2 linked regions of the Homo sapiens genome follow. The protein of the gene in region 1 purifies or fractionates together with the protein of each later gene. This does not show direct contact. Each region holds a gene or a part of one and is shown in the gene's direction. Other genes may lie near its edges.

Region 1 (4,799 bases):
TAGACAGGGTCTCGCTCTGACACACAGGCTGGTGTGCAGTGGCATGATCGCGGATCATTGCAGCCTCTACCTCCCATGCTCAACTGATTCTCCTGCCTCAGCCTCCTGAGTAGCTGGGGCTACAGGCATGTGCCACCACTTCCAGATATATATATATTTTTTCGAGACAGGGTCTCACGATGTTGCCCAAGCTGGTCTCGAACTCCTGGCCTCAAGTGATTCTCCTGCCTTGGCCTCTCAAAGTATTGAGATTACAGGCATGAGCCACCACACCTGGCCTTCTTGCCACTTTTTAAACATGATTTCATTTAATCCTCATTGCAACCTTGATGAGAAAGGTATTGCTATATTCACTTTATTGGTGGGGAAACCAAAGTGTGGTTTAACTTGCCGAGTGAAGTGGCTGGGAGTGTGGAATAAAGGTCTGTTGGTCCCAGCAATGACACTGTGGGAGGGATTGCAGCCACAGGGGCAATAATTCCTCAGAATCTACTGTCTGCCAACTTTTAAAGGAATAAACATAGATGTCAGGGAAGACTGACTGGCACAATTTAGGAGCTGATTATAGACAAGACTGCTGAGATAGATGAAGTTAAAAATAGGCAAGAGATGAGTGATGCCTGTTTTGGGAAATGTCCTATACAGAAGATAGATTCTCTCAGTTTATGTGTAATTTTTTTATCTGCTATAAAAATCTATCAATATCTCAATTTCTCAGTGATTTTCCCCCCTCCCCAAATGTCAGGATTGTGCAGCTAGAAACCTAAATGGCTTTTCCCACATTATCTTTAGCTGAATGCAGATGCCCAGGCTTTGTATCAGAGCATAATACTCAACAATCATATTAATTGCTTCTTATCTCTGGATTCTTTTCTAATAAAGTGTTTATCACATTCAAATCCATGGTAAGATTAATGAACTTGCAGCTGTTTTATATTCTGATCATTTGGCACATTGACCTGAAAGATAAGGTATGTTTATTATTACCAAAAAGTTTTCTCAAAATTTCTCCCTGAAGGGAAGTAGGAAAGACAACCAACCAGTGTGCCAGATTAGAACAAAAAAATGTTTTAAGTCCTATTTTCAGTTTTTTTTTTTGCACAGAATAGAGAAATAAAAAGCAAAGCAAAGGAAGACAAAAAGATGAATAAAGCCTACAACCCCTTGCTATAATTTCAGTAGCTGAAGCTGGTAATTAATTTAGCAACTATTTATTGAGTGACTACAATGTGCCAGGCACTTTGCTAGTTCAGGGGAGATGGTGGTAAACAAGACGGATGGCTAACCACCTGTAAAGAGCATGCATGTTGGTTTACACGTCTATGCACCATGTAGTTAACATACATTATTTAACTTAATTCCTACATCAATTTTATAAGAATCGTTATCCCGTTATGTAGATGAAACTAAGGTTCAGGAAGTTTAAATCCTTGGTCTAGGCTTGCATCTCAACTAAGCTGCCAGAACTGAGGTCTGTCTGATTTGAACATGCACCCCTGCAATATATTGACAAAGTCAGATCTCAGCTCGCTGTAACCTCCAACTCCTGGGTTCAAGTGATTCTCCTGTCTCAGCCTCCCAAGTAGCTGGGATTACAGGCATGTGCCACCATGCCTGGCTAATTTTTGTATTTTTAGTAGAGGTGAGGTTTTGCCATGTTGGCCAGGCTGGTCTTGAACTTCTGACCTCAGGTGATCCACCCGCCTCAGCCTCCCAAAGTGCTGAGATTATAGGCGTGAGCAACCATGCCCGGCCAGCAGCATTATCTTTTGATAGAAGACCTCAAAGAGAGGGAGTTACTTTGCAATGGCAGCAGAAGGTAGCAGTAGTAGTAGTGGTAGTTAGCATAGCTTTGATATTTGCCAAGGGCTTCACATACCTATTTCCCCTGAGTCTCTATCACAGCACCTCTGTGAAGTGAATAGTAATATTATCCTCATATTGGAGATGAAGAAACAAAGGCCCCCAAATTACTTGTTTACATAGTAGAAATAAGATTCAAGTCCAGATTTACAGACTCCAAATCAAGTAGGTGTGTGAAAGTGTTTCATAAATTACAGAAGGTTCTCCCAATGTTTGTGCAAATGTTTCATTAAAAAGCACCCTTTTCATTGTGTGAAAATGTGGCCATGTGGCCAATAAAGTAGGCTTACCCTTGGCTGCCTTTTAAGAGTAAGTCAGGGGTAGGAGTGGGAATATTATAAAGCAAGGTTTGGTCTAGTCATACTGTATGTGATTGTATGATTATTTACTCTGAATAAATGTGATTCAGGCTTTAGGCTTTTCAATATTGTGCCAAACACCGTATTTTGGAATTCAGAACCTACAAGGTAGAGATGCCATAATTCTCTTTATAGAGAGAGCCCTTGATAGATATCCATAATCAATTCCAGCATTGTCTACCAGTGCTGCTTTGTGCAGACACAGCCTCTTGAACCCAGTCCTCTTGGTCTGGAAACTAGTCATATACTAGAGGAAACCAAACAGATTGGTAAAGGCTGGGGCAACTGAGTATTTTCCAAAGCATATTTGAAATTCTGTTCTTGACTCTGATTTTGAGGTTTTGGCTTCACTGTAGGTTTTAATGTCAACCACCTGGACATTGCCCCACGCTATGCCAGCATTCTCATGGGGATCTCAAACGGAGTGGGAACCCTCTCTGGAATGGTCTGTCCCCTCATTGTCGGTGCAATGACCAGGCACAAGGTAAAGGTCTCCTTTGTGGCTATGGGTTACAATATCAGAGGACTGGAGCTCTACACAAACTTGAGATTTCAAGGCTCTACTGCAGTCTGTAAATGTGTATGTCCTTGACCTTGACTGAGTCAGCTGAACTTCTTTTTTTTTTCTTCCTTCTTCTGATTTTCAAATCATTGCTTATCAATGGCACCAAGGCTAGTTGTTGTTTTGTTCTATGTTTTCTCAATTGAGGAATAATAGTCTGGGGAGAGGGGATGGGCCATAGAAACTGTTTAGAGACCCAAAGAAGAAACTGAGGCAGTCAACTTGGGATAAATGAGTTACTGAAGATTGTTTTCTCATTCTCAGTGATTAAACCTTATAGCCTATTTCCATCCATTGCTTAGCATGTTTCAGCATAAAAAGATGAGTGCTATTCTACTTCCTTGTTAAGAATAAAATAAACAGGACATTGATAACCTACCCAGTTGTTACTGAGCCTTTGTGAATTTAGACAAGGGTGGATGGTAGAGGCAGATCCATCCAGAGTTCAACCACAGCCCACATGATTTCTTTATCTTTGTCACTGAAACGTCTCAAGATGCTGCTTTCTGCAAATAAGAATTCTTTGATACCATGGGATTTTTTTCCCCCATCTATTTTCTTAGTTGGATTGCCTATTACAAATATAACTTCAGAAGTTTTTGCAGCTTCCTGCAGAAGAAAGTGTGAGATAAATTTTCTTACTTTTTGACAGAAAAGGTAGGATTTTATAGGCAGAGAATTCATGTTTTCCATCTCTGTTCATGAAATGATAGGATTGATAACCTGACTATTAAATCCAAGATATCTTCCCCCAACCTTAGACACAAATTCCCATTATTTTTTGACATACTTTTTTTTACACTGAAAATATTATAAAGTTCTTGTCAGTCAAGGGTGAGAACTTTAATGGCTCAAATATTGTTATGTATCCAACAACAAGCAAGAAGGAGACTTCTGATATTTAAAACGGTGGGTTCCTAAAACAATTTTAATTTAGCTGACTATGTGAAGGGAAACCCCATTTGAGTATTCAAAAAGCTATGCAATGGTGCTGCAGGTATTAATATTTGTATATGTTGTTTATTTTAAAATGTATTTTCTTGTAATCCCAGCACTTTGGGAGGCCAAGGCGGGTGGATCATGAGGTCAGGAGATCGAGACCATCCTGGCTAACACAGTGAAACCCCGCCTCTACTAAAAATACAAAAAATTAGCCAGGCGTGGTGGCGGGCACCTGTAGTCCCAGCTACTCAGAGGCTGAGGCAGGAGAATGGTGTGAACCCAGGAGGCGGAGCTTGCAGTGAGCCGAGATCGCGCCACTGCACTCTAGCCTGGGTGACAGAGCGAGACTCCATCTCAAAAAAAAAAAAAAGAATTTTCTAAATTAAAAAAATACGTATTTATTGTTTTGTCTAACTTTCATATTCATTGTTGTCTTAACTTTCATTTTTTAAGTTTTTCTTTTAAATTTGGTTTGAATCCCGGATGGTGCTTCTGACACACGTCCTCCCGCCCAAGGAGCCTCTAGAGCATCACCTTCCAAATGGGCAGGTGCTTTTTCACAGTGGAGGCCTCCAGGACATACTGGTAATCTCTAGTTTTAGTTAAAACATTAATTGGCACTTTATTTCCTTATTTAGACCCGTGAAGAATGGCAGAATGTGTTCCTCATAGCTGCCCTGGTGCATTACAGTGGTGTGATCTTCTATGGGGTCTTTGCTTCTGGGGAGAAACAGGAGTGGGCTGACCCAGAGAATCTCTCTGAGGAGAAATGTGGAATCATTGACCAGGACGAATTAGCTGAGGAGATAGAACTCAACCATGAGAGTTTTGCGAGTCCCAAAAAGAAGATGTCTTATGGAGCCACCTCCCAGAATTGTGAAGTCCAGAAGAAGGAATGGAAAGGACAGAGAGGAGCGACCCTTGATGAGGAAGAGCTGACATCCTACCAGAATGAAGAGAGAAACTTCTCAACTATATCCTAATGTCTGAGAGGCACTTCTGTCTTCTCCTTACTTTAGAAACAGAAAGTATCCATACCTATTGCCTTTCTTGTAGCCCAGCTTGCCAGAGGT
Region 2 (5,058 bases), on another chromosome or scaffold:
AAAATACTTAAGCTAAAAAATAAAATATTAATAAGTGAATGAATTGTTTGGAATAATTTAACTTTATCCACAAATAAATAGAAGATGGTTGCCTTGCCCAGGTGGACTGTAACAATACTGGCTTTATTAAATTTGTTAAAAGGTTGATAGTGGAGTCCGGTTCTCAATAGGTCCCAAATTAGGGTTGAAATTGAAAAGATGTGTTTTAACTAATTTGGCTTCATTCCTCAACCAGTTCTGTTTACACAGGTGAATATGAGGTTTCTGCTACACATACCTTTCCCCTGCTTCTGATTGAGGTACTTTAAATTAGTAATTGAAACAAGGCTGTGCAGATAAACTGCAGCACAAATTTGGTTGCTACAAATAGGTTTTGGCCTAAATGTTCACTGTAAAACATGGCAGTAGTTAAAGGGGAGTTATTAATATTTTGAAAGAGTTCCTTGAGTCAGTGTTTCTCAACTTTATTAGACCCAATAAAGGCTCCCTTTTTATAAAAAATAATTAGTAACACCTTCTTTGCTATCTTTAGTTTATAAATAATGTAACTACCTCTGGCTTTGGCCCTGAGACAAAAAAAGAAGCTTTGCTCTCACTTCTGCAACAAAAAAAGACCTACACTACAAATTCATGACTTTTTTGAAATCTATTAAAGAGCTGAGTCCACAGAGCAAAACCACTGGCTGAAAATTTGAGAGACAGTGCTTACAGAGAGTAGATGTCAATTTCTGTTTACCGTCTTCAGACACAACTGGACAAAAAGCATGATGAAAGCTGAATGCACAATCTTGCAAACTCTTATCCACAAACCTCCCTGGGTCTACTAGAAAAGACTGGAAAGAACCCTGGGTGAGTCTGCTGTGCAGATTGAGAGGGAGAGGAACAGCAACAGAACTTTTAAGAGGGTCAAGAAACTGCTGTGATTCTTCCCCTCTGCCTCTTCTATGGAAAAAAGCTTTAATCTCTGGGGAGAAGGGTATCTCTGTTGGCCCCATTGGTGAACATTCAGGGGGTAGATGAGAAGTGGGAGAGAATCTTATGCCTGGAGGAGGGGCCCTGAGCCCAAAACTGCAGTCGGGAGTGGTCAACAGAACCGAGAGTGCTGCCCTCCTGAGATTCAGGAACACAGTGTTTGACTTAGACTTAATCAGAACATCAGACTGTATCCCCCACCCCCAACCCCCTGCCACCAAGCTAAGAAGCTTTCAGTAACAAGTAACCCACAAAATACTACTAGGAAAGGAACAAGATTATGCAAAGAGGCACAACACAAAGAATCAAACAGGCATTGCTCTAGTAAACCATCGCCCACCAGAGAGACAAACTGTTCTGCAGATTCATGAAGGCTGTAATACACTGAGGATAACTATGGCAAAAACAAATCATAAACTAAGTCCAACTCCTAACCAGATTAACACAAACCCTTCACCAAAGGCCTCACAAAGAACAGGCGTGCTCATTTCCAGTCATAAAAATTACCTCAATCTCTACTCCTACACAACATGTCCAGCTTTTAACCAAAAATTATGAGGCCCATGAAAAAAACTCCCAAGAGAAAGAGCAGTCATCATTATACATTTTTTAAAAAGATAGGAGCTTAAAAAGAACTGTTTTGTACATGTTAAATACTATAATAATGACATTTTGCCTTGAAAAAGTTTGAGCAAACAATGCAGTGAGCATTGGATGGAGTTATAGTTTCTGAATTACTGTGAAGTAGTAGAAGGAAAAAAAGTTATAAGATGGAGTGGAAAATTAGTAACATATATGTGAATGTATGTGGTTCATTGACCACCTGAAGTGTGTGTGTGTATTTTGTGAATTCCTGCATGACTCAGTTGGGTACAATTTTCTGCGTTCACTTAGTGTTGGGACAGAATCACTATAAGCAAATGTGACATTTTCATTATGCTCAAATTGTTCAGTAATACACCAATCCTGTTAAAATTCACATGATCAAGAAAGCATTATAGCAGAATTGACTATATGCATTTCAATATGTAAATAGTTAAGTATGATTATACCAAAATACACAAAGGACGTGTCAGAGGCTTGTATCTTTACATGGAATCATTTTGAGATTTTTTTTGTGTGTGTGAGAGACAATCTTGCTCTGTCACCCAGGCTGGAGTGCAGTGGCACGATCTTGGCTCACTGCAACCTCTGCCTCAGCCTCCTGAGTAGCTGGGACTACAGGCGCTTGCCACCATGCTGGGCTGATTTTTTTTTTTTTCTGTATTTTTAGGAGACAGAGTTTCACCATGTTGCCCAGGCTGGTCTCGAACTCCTGACCTCAAGTGATCCACCCACCCAGGCCTCCCAAAGTGCTGGGATTACAGGTGTGAGCCACCATGCCTGGCCCATTTTGATTTTTGACAGAAATGTTGATGTCTACAGATTTGTCACATTGGTGACTCAAATACCACAATTGAGATTATTAGCATTGTCAGAAAAGAACAGGGTTAATAAAGTATAATCTCTTAATTTACATTGCAGCCACATTCCTGGAAAAATCTCTGTATATTAAACCCTGCAAAATGTACTTGGTGAGTTATATATAAAACAATTAGAGTCTGGGATTCATTCATTATAAATAGGTTTTTGCCTACATGACTAACCAACTAAGCATTTGGACTTCTGGACTTTTTTCTTTTTCCTTTTTTTTTTTCTTTTTTCAGACCTCACTCTGTTGCCCAGGCTGGAATGCAGTGACACGATCATAGCTCACTGTAGCCCTGATCTCCTGGGCTCAAGCGATCCTCCCACCTTAGCCTCCTTAGTATCTGGAGCCATAGGCACGCCATGCCCAGCTAACTTTTTTTTATTATTATTATTTTTAGTAGAGACGAGGTCTCACTATGTTGCCCAGGCTAGTCTCAAACTCCTGAGCTCAAGCAATCCTCCCACCTCAGCCTCTCAGAATGCTGGGATTACAGGTGTGAGCCACCATACCTGGCTCACTTGGACACTTGAAAGTCGTATGGTGTGGATGGTACTTATCTTTGGGACTGTAATGTATGTTGAATATCTAGTCTCATCCACTAAATGCTAGTAGTGCTCCCAGTCATAGTGCCTCAGATGGGATGGCATCCTAGCCCAACCATTACTTTAGTTCAAAATTTTAATCAGTGGTTTTCAACATATTTTTTCTGTTTCAGCAGTGTTCACATACCCAGCATATGCCAATTTATAACACTTCTTGTTATGTGGAGTGATTCTTAATCATAGGAACTCCTTTGAGAGTAACTGAGTTAGATTTCTTTGTAACAAATAGTTTAAACCAACATGGTTATGATCATCTTTGCTAATTTAAGATAGTTACCTGTGCAAAGGTACATTTAGGTGTGGTTCAGTCAATAAAACCATATAGCTTGCTAGTAATTCTTTTCAGATGCTCTTTATTCAATAGTCGACATATGGGAGTTTTACTTGTACTTTCATGGACTACTTGTGAAAAAGAGTGAGCTTTAAAGTCAGTGGAATTTTACAGTTTAAGCACTCAAGTTGCCCTTAGAAGAACACTGCCTAGTCACATATTTAGCACATGCCCAGTGGTAATATCTCTTTGCAATGGATTAATAAGAGTTTGATATTTTGATTATCAGATAGAAAACAAAACCCCTAAAGCAATCCAGAATTATTTTAGCTGGGTGCACAATAATCACACGTGTAATCCCAGCACTTGGAAGGCTGAGGCGGGAGGATCACTCGAGGCCAGGAGCTCCAACCTAGCTTGAGCAACCCCGTCTCATCAAAAAATGAAATAACTAGCTGGCTGTGGTGACGTGTGCTCGGGAGGCTGAGGCAGGAGGATTGCTTGAACCCAGGAGACTGAGATTACAGTGAGCTATGATTGTGTTGCTGCGTTTCAGTCTGGGTGACAAAGGAAGACCCTGTCTCTTAAAAAAAATTATTTCGACGCTTTGATTTTTGCCAGCTCTAGTTGCCACAACTTAATGGAAGGGTTGGTGAGGTTATGAATGGAGGAGATGTTCTCTAATATTTCATGTATTCTGTAATACATTTAAACGCTTATACATGGTGTTCTCACTTTTATTGTATTCCTTAGTCATCTAAGGCTATGGGGTTTCTCTCCTCAAACTTCTAGTCAAGCTACAGAATGTATTTTGAATGTTTATCAAATCTTAGAGCAGATAAGCCATTTTCCCCCCAAATCTTAGCACTAATGGGCTTAATTTTAAAAGTGAAACTTTGCTTTTTTAAGATAATTTGGTAGTGTTCTATAAACTGTAAAGCGCCACAGAAGAGGTAGGAATAATAGGGATATTTCAGAACTAAACTAGAAATGTATGTTTTTGCTATTTTGTATTGAGTGAAGGGGAAATTGTAGCAAATTAAACTTTTGTCTTTTAATAGTATAAAAAGAACAGTGTTTGGGTTTTCAGGATGCTTTCTGTAAAACTGTCTTCAAGTTGTATGTGTTAAAAGCTTAGGAAATTTAGTCCCGCATTATGCATTTACTGTAATGATAGGAAAAACAGCAACAAGTTAAAATATGGCTGCTAAAAATTTCTTTTGCCCATTTCAGGGCCTGTTTACCATAGTAGAGCATGATTATTAAGTGCCTTAATAAGCTGATAAGCTTAATAAGTTGATAAGCTGAAGACCTTACAGAAATAGTATAGTTTGTTCTTGCATAAGCCAGGTTATGCTTCAAAGATAAAATGAAATAGAAATTAGGTCTATAAAGTTACAATAATGTGTATAAACTAAAAATATGTAAATGATCAATAGCAATGATTTCAAAGCATTGCTTAAGTGAACATGTTTCTGGAAAGAAAGCTTTCAGGTGAGTATTTTAAGGCATTTTTAAGCTTTGGAAAGGGAAGGGTCATAGTAATACATCTTTCACAGAAAATTTGAATTTTTTTAACAACAGATAAACTTCTGTTTTGTCAGAAATACAAATTATTCCCCTCAGATGAAATGAGCATACATGTGATAGAAATAGAAGAGACAGGTCTCTTTTCAATACTTGATTTATACTGTTGAATAGAAGAGGTCAAAAAAAGTAACTGCTATGGTAAGTATGCTTGT

Evidence for each region. Proteins that work in one complex are often made in the same cells at the same time.
Region 2: the proteins of SLC17A8 (region 1) and DNAJC13 purify together in Homo sapiens (affinity purification with mass spectrometry; one large-scale study listed by BioGRID and IntAct). This does not show direct contact.

Annotation. Positions count from the first base shown.
Region 1 is NC_000012.12:100,415,451-100,420,249, forward strand, and holds part of SLC17A8 (vesicular glutamate transporter 3), read left to right. Parts: intron 1-2,578; coding exon 2,579-2,706; intron 2,707-4,364; coding exon 4,365-4,709; 3' UTR 4,710-4,799. UniProt on the Homo sapiens protein: Multifunctional transporter that transports L-glutamate as well as multiple ions such as chloride, sodium and phosphate.
Region 2 is NC_000003.12:132,419,379-132,424,436, forward strand, and holds part of DNAJC13 (dnaJ homolog subfamily C member 13), read left to right. Parts: exon of another isoform or gene 1-2,339; intron 2,340-5,058.